Homo sapiens: one gene and its partner. The protein of the gene in region 2 purifies or fractionates together with the protein of the main gene of each other region. This does not show direct contact. Each region holds a gene or a part of one and is shown on either strand. Other genes may lie near its edges.

Region 1 (3,500 bases), on a different chromosome or scaffold from region 2:
TTATTGCATAATTGATACATTGCTTGAATGCTAGATTCCCCCCATCTACCCCCACATCTCATTTAACAAAGAAGTATAGAAACATCCTGGGGAGACAGTGTGGAGTGGACCTGGGAGTCTAGCATATGTGAGTTCTAGTCCCCGTTCTGCCACTTCCTGCCTTCTGTGATGCTGGGCTAGCTACTTGACATCTCTCTCCTAGCTTCTGTTCTGTAGAATGGGGGAAAACAATAGTTGCCACCCCCAGACACCATGTTGTGGAGATGTGTCTGGCTTATACTCAACTCAGTGACTGTATTGTAGCTATTAGCTCTTAGTAACAGAAAATTAGTTTTTAGTATTATATTTCTAAGATTTGTATGTCCCTGCCTCTTTAAGTATTTGGTTTGTATTAATACCTTTTGGTCTTGTTATATAATATTCTAGCTGTAAAAGCATTTCATCAATGAATTGAGGAAGTCTCTGATTTTAAATACTTTAATCAGTAAAATTTCAGAGAAAAATCTTTAAGACATTTGATTGGTAAGATGATAATACATGGCAGAACACACAAGCTTACTTTTTTTAATAGGCAAGAAGATGTGTGAAAACAGCCTTAAAAAAAAAAAGCCTAAGAATTCCAGTCTTTCAGCCTGGAATATGAACAAAGTTTCTTTAATAACAAAGAAAAAAATGACACCAAATGATCAATAACTTAGAGTTTACAAAAACTATCAGAGAGTAAAAGGGCCAGGGAAAATGCAGACACTGGTAGGGATGGTTCGGTGGAGGATGGAAACACTCATAAAATAATGGGCCCTACAGGTATTCTACAGGTTGAACCAGGCCCTTGAATGCATCTTGGGAACCAAAATGAAAAGTGAAACAACTCTGTGCCTCGTAAACCATGAAAAAACATAACAGGTACTCAAGGGAAGCACAGTATTTCCTGGCAAAATGTTGGAGTTGGGGGTAGTTTCCCGTAAAGTTGGATGGGAAGAGAGGACGCAGTGAAGCATGTCTTCATCAGGTTTAGAGCAAATGCCGCAGGAACCTTTCTTACAGGTCTCAGGGAAAGTGGAAAAAATAAATTGACAAATGGGGAGCTGAAATAATCTTACCTCGGTATGTTTTTTTGGGAGGAAGCTAACTGGAATATTAAGAAGCATGGAATTGGAATGCACATTCTTCCAGTCTTCTGCCCCCTTGGAATGTCTGATTTGAGCAAAGCAGCTTCCCACGGGATCTTCTTGATTACAAAATGGTATTTCTCAACACCTAAAAACCTTCTTGAAAGGCTTATTACCAAAATCTTTGGTTGTTGAAGTTAAACAATCATACAGTAATAATTAGATAGGACCAGTGTCCGCGAAGTCCTCCTAGCTTGTTTGCCGGGTGCGCTTTAGACGCACAGCTGCTCTGAGGGTACTTCTGATCAGAGTAACCCAGGGTGACCCAGCTATAAATTACACTCGAGGGTGGTTTGCCTTGTCTTGCTGGTAGAGCACCAGAATCTTGGTAAAAATGTGTTGGTGGGCTTAGCTTTTTTCTTTTTAAACTTGGAAGTTCAGAAATTGGTTTTTAATTAAAATCTTTTTTTGTTTGCTTATTATCTGTCTCTTCCCACCAGAGATAAAGCTCTCTTATTCGCGGGTGTGTCTCAAGATCGATATTTTACAATATAGTTTAGCACATAGCATATGCTCAATAAATATTTGAATATTTGTTGATTTAATGAATTTATTCATCGGGAATAGATTTTGCTATCTCTAGACATAAGAAGTTAGAAATTAACTCTGTAGTCTAAATAAGATAATTCTGTAGTGCAAGTGTGATGATTTTGAAGGATGTGGTTAAAAAGAAAATATTCTAAAAAATATTTTATTTTTTGATCTCGCTATGTTGCCCAGGTTGGTCTTGAACTTCTGGCCTCAAGTGATCCTACTGCCTTGGCCTGTTAAAGCACTGGGATTACAGGTGTGAGCCACCATTCCTAGCCTTGTTTTTCTTAAGTAGTTAAATAGTTAATATTATGTTGAAATTTTTCATCTTTGCTGCTGATTTTGGGATTATTTCTTAAGATAGATATTTTGACTGGGCTCTTTCTTAGACTTCCAAGTTAGGAATGGTAGAGGTGTCCTCTGCAAGGATTTGTCCAGTGCCTGCATTTTCCTGAATACTGCTGGAGAAGGGGCCATTCAGCCAGGGACTTTGCTCCTGGTAGGAACCAGCTATTGCTGTTGGTCTGCTTTAGTTTTTGTTTTCCTGTCTTGACCAAAACAGATAAATAAGATACACTTTGCTGAAGTGACAAGAGATACCATGCTTCCTCTTTAAAATTCTCATCCTTATTTACTCTGGAGTTTTAACGAGGATTATCGTCAGGCTCACTGATTTTTTACAGTCTAACATTTGTGGAAATTGTTCTGTCTCTAGACAGTCCTTTAGATTTCAGAAACAATCTTGACAATGATGACATCGCTAATACCCACCATCAACAGAGGTATAGGCTTTTTTTTTCCCCAGTGCCTGTTTCCCTTCCAGGTTGGGACATGAGGGTTAGTGTTTCCTGCCTCCTTTCCCTCTTTAACAGTGTATCCTTAAAGTCATAATGAATCTGATCTGCGGCATAAAAAAAGTAAGCACAATTGGATCGTTTTGGTTTTTCACCCATCATTAGCATTGTATTCAGGAGAGTGAGGAAATGCATTTTCTTCTCTCTCTTTTTTATTTTTTTGAGATGGAGTCTCCCTCTGTTGCCCAGGCTGGAGTGAGGTCGTACGATCTCGGCTCACTGCAACCTCCACCTCCCAGGTTCAAGCAATTCTCCTGGCTTAGCCTCCCGAGTAGCTGGAATTACAGGCACCTGCCACCACATCTGACTAATTTTTGTATTCTTAGTAGAGTTGGAGTTTCACCATGTTGGCCAGGCTGGTCTCAAACGCCTGACCTCAAGTGATAACACCTGCCTTGGCCTCCCAAAGAGCTGGGATTACAGGTGTGAGCAACTGTGCCCAGCCCTGCATTTTCTTTCTCAGTGAAACTAGGTGGTGGTTGGAGAAAGCTTGTCCTTAGAATTTGTTGGCAAGTTCCATTTAAATCTAGGCATTACCCTCCTGTAGCATATACCATGTGCATTGGCTCTCCTTAACTCTGAACTTATTTTATAGCCCAAATGGGCTCTTAACTTATTTATGTGTACTTGTACCCTCAGATTTTTGTTAAGGATTCTTGGAACTCATAGGTAGATCCAGGTTGTTTGTGGGGACGAAGTTTATACAATTTGGGGGTCCTCATTATGAAAAATATATAAATATCTTTTAAGTTTTACAAAAACCTATGGCCATGTGAACCCTTTTGAACTTGAAGACTTCTCCATACCTGTCATACAAGGTTCTTGTCAGGGAAAGTAGAGCTTAGTGGTTAAGAACATGGACTGTGGGAACTGGGTTGGATTCCTGGTTCTGCATCTTACTGTGAACTTTGGCAAGTGACTTAACCTGCCTGTCTTGTATGTAAAA
Region 2 (3,500 bases):
GAACATAATATAAAGGTAATTGTTTTACGTTTTGTTTCTTAAGGGAACTTTAAATTTTATAAAGGCCTTTTCATGTCTTTGTGCTTTTAAACTTTTAAATTTTTTTTTATCTCCATGATCTGCATCTAGAACTTAAAACAAATTTATTGCCGTCTATAACTGTATGTAGAGTTTTACACAACATATTCTAGTTCAGATTCTGTGGCAAAGGCCACTTTTTAGAAAAAAAAAAACCTGTCTTATGACCAGCGGAATTAAAATTCACATCTGTCCTGAGAAAATTTATCCACTCATTTTGTCCCATAGTGAATGAGAAAATTAAAATGGTTCAAGGTATAAAGTAAAGAAGCTGACTAAGGGTCAGTCAGCAATGAGAGGGACAGACAAGTATGGAAGGATCAGGCAACTGTTATAGGTAGTAAGGCAGTATAAGGAAGTCACCTTGGGCCAGGAGGATATTAAGTCAGACAGTGGGCCTGGAGTCTGGGGCAAGCAACAGGGATTCATTCCTATCAACAAATACTTGTAGATTTTGTCTGCCGTTTACTGGTTGTTGTGCTCTCTGTTGTGGAGGATATTGCAATGATTAAGGCAGGTTTCCTACCTTCATTTAAGTAGAGAATGTAAGACAAATGGCAGTAACCGTGAAGTAAGTTAGCATGTGATGAGTGTCATATGAATAGTACACACAAAGCATGATAGAAATTTAAGAAGGAGCAAGATCATTTTCACCTGGGATTAGGAAAAGTTTTATGAAGGAGGTGGTAATTGAGCTAGCTGGGTCTAAAAAGATCAGCGTTGCAGTAGGCAGAGTTGGAGGCATCTAGAAGAAGGCACTTTAAATCCTAAAGGGAGGAAGAGACAATGTACATTTGGAGCACTGATGGTTCCCGAACCAACAGCAACAGCATCATCTGGAAACTTGTCAGGCCCCACCCTGGAACAACTGAATCCAAAATTCTGGAGATGAGCCAAGCAGTCTTAAGTTTTATAGGTCTTCCAGGTAATTGTGATATAGGCTGAACTTTGAGAACCACTGTTTAGAGAATAGGAAGGAATGTGTAAAGTTGAGTCAAGCGTCTCTTAATGTACCTAGCACTAACTATATGTACTTAAGACATAATTGTTATCTACAAGGAAATTAATCAAGTAGGGTAAATAAGACAGTGATTATGCAGTGTGCTATGTGCTATTAACAGACTAAACATGGGATGCTGTAAGAGCACATGGCAGGGAAGAGGCTTAATCCACACTGGGGATGAATGTCACTTAAAGTTTCCTGGAAGAAATGGTGTCTGAACTGAGTCTTGAAAGGATGAGTATTTAGCCAGTGAGGAAGGGCACACCACATAGAGAGCTTCTGTTCGAAGTCATGGAAGCATGAGATATACAAGCCATCCAGAGAACTACAGTGTTAGTTTAGCGTGGCTGGAGAGGAAGGGGGTAGTGTCTGGTGGATTGACACTAGATCATAGAGGGATTTGCATATCATGAAGGAGTTAATCTTTTTTCTCCTAAAAGCAGTGGGAAGTTATTTTCAAGCAGGAGAATGACATTGTCTCATTTACTTTTTTAAAGAGACCATTCTGATGGCCGGGTGGATAATAGGATAGATGAATCTAGACATGAGGATTCAGAAATAATTATAGTAATTTATATGAGACAGAAGGATGTGAAAGAATACAGTAACAATGCAGATAGATAGTAGGGATCCTACAGGAGATACATTTAGGCGGTAGAAGAAAGAACTTGGTAACTATTGGATTATGGGGAAGAAAAGAGGTGGTGAATTCTGCTTTGGTTTCTGGCTTTGGATAATGCTATCCACCCAGCAAATATTTGTTGAGCACCTACTTGGTTAAGGTTAGGTTTTAGGAATACATGGGGAATACTGTTCCTGTCCTCGAGAAACTTCCAGTTTGCTGGGATGACTATTGTTTCATCTCTAGGCTTCTATTATTTGGTAATTAGTGCTTGGGATGCTATGTTGCAAGACTCCAATTTCAATAGGATAGAGTGCTGTGAAATATTAACAGTGCCTGCTACATACATGTCATGGCCTAGGAGAAACAGAAAGAACTTGATAGCCTGGAGGTAGAAAGAGGCACATGTGTTTGAACAGTGATTCTCAAGAAGTGGATCCTGGACTAGCAGCATCAGTATCATTTGGGACCTTGTTAGAAATGCACATTCTCCTAGGAGATGTAGGAGAAGAAGGTTTTGGGGGAGTGATGAGAATTTTTATTTTTGCACATGCTGAATTTAAAGGAATCATGGGTGGGCTAGGCACAGTGGCTCATCCCTACAATCCAAGCACTTTGGGAGGCCGAGGCAGATGGATCTTGGGCTCAAGAGTTCCAGACCAGCCTGGGCAACATGGTGAAAGCCCATCTGTACAAAAATACAAAAATTAGGCGGGCACAGTGGCACACGCCTGTAGTGCCAGCTACTCAGGAGGCAGAGGTGGGAGGATGGCTTGAGCTTGGGAGGTGGAGGTTGTGGTGAGCCAAGATTGTGTGACTGCACTCCAGCCTGGGTGACAGAGCAAGACTGTTTTGGGGGGCGGGAGGTGGGCAGGGAATAGTAATCTTGGGTTATCTAGGTGATTATGGCCAACAGGTAATTGGCTACCTATATCTGGAGCTCATAAGAGACATCTGGGGCTTGCATTAAAGATTTGAGCATTGTCTGTGCATTTATATTAGGTAGTAGTTGAAGCCGTGAAACTGGATGAAATCCTGTGTAGAGAGAATATAAAATGAGACGTGAAGAGAGTGAACTCTAAAGATGGTGCATGTAAAAAGGCAGGTAGAGGATGAGGAGCCTGTGAAGTTTGTCATTGAATAGCCAGAGAGATAGTTGGGAAATGAGCAGCATAGCATGATGCCAGATTGAAGGGAGTCTTAAAGAGGAAGGAGTCAGCAGTGAATAGATACTGCAGAGATCAAGAAAGAGAACTTAAAGATGTCTTTTGGAGATAACAGGAGAGTTTTGATGACTTGGTCAATAGTAGTTTGTTGTAATGGTGGCAAGGGAAGCCAGGAGGTAGTGAGACATTGAATTTAGATTGCTTTTTAAAGCTTTGAGTAGCAGAGAGGGTGAAAGCTAGAGAATTTAGTTTTGAGGAAGGATTTATCTTGGGGTTGAAAGAAAAAGTCAGAGCCGGGCACGGTGGCTCACTCCTGTAATCCCAGCACTTTGGGAGGCTGAGGCGGGCGGATCATGAGGTCGGGAGTTAGAGACCAGCCCGACCAATATGGTGAAACCCTGTCTCTACTAAAAATACAAAAATTAGCCGGGTTTGGTGACGCGTGCCTGTAATGCCAGCTACTTAGGAGGCTGAGGCAGGAGAATCACTTGAACCCGGGAGGCGGAGGTTGCAGGGAGCTGAGATTGTACCAGTGCACTCCAGCTTGGACGACAGAGCAAGACTCTGTCTCAAAAAAAAAAAAAAAAAAAAAAAAAGAAAGAAAGAAAAAGTCAGTAAAAAGGGTAAAAAG

Evidence for each region. Proteins that work in one complex are often made in the same cells at the same time.
Region 1: the proteins of PPP3R1 (region 2) and CNN3 purify together in Homo sapiens (co-immunoprecipitation; one large-scale study listed by IntAct). This does not show direct contact.

Annotation. Positions count from the first base shown.
Region 1 is NC_000001.11:94,920,611-94,924,110, reverse strand, and holds part of CNN3 (calponin-3), read left to right. Parts: exon of another isoform or gene 1-1,243; intron 1,244-1,889; exon of another isoform or gene 1,890-3,500. UniProt on the Homo sapiens protein: Thin filament-associated protein that is implicated in the regulation and modulation of smooth muscle contraction. It is capable of binding to actin, calmodulin and tropomyosin. The interaction of calponin with actin inhibits the actomyosin Mg-ATPase activity.
Region 2 is NC_000002.12:68,246,033-68,249,532, reverse strand, and holds part of PPP3R1 (calcineurin subunit B type 1), read left to right. Parts: intron 1-3,500. UniProt on the Homo sapiens protein: Regulatory subunit of calcineurin, a calcium-dependent, calmodulin stimulated protein phosphatase. Confers calcium sensitivity.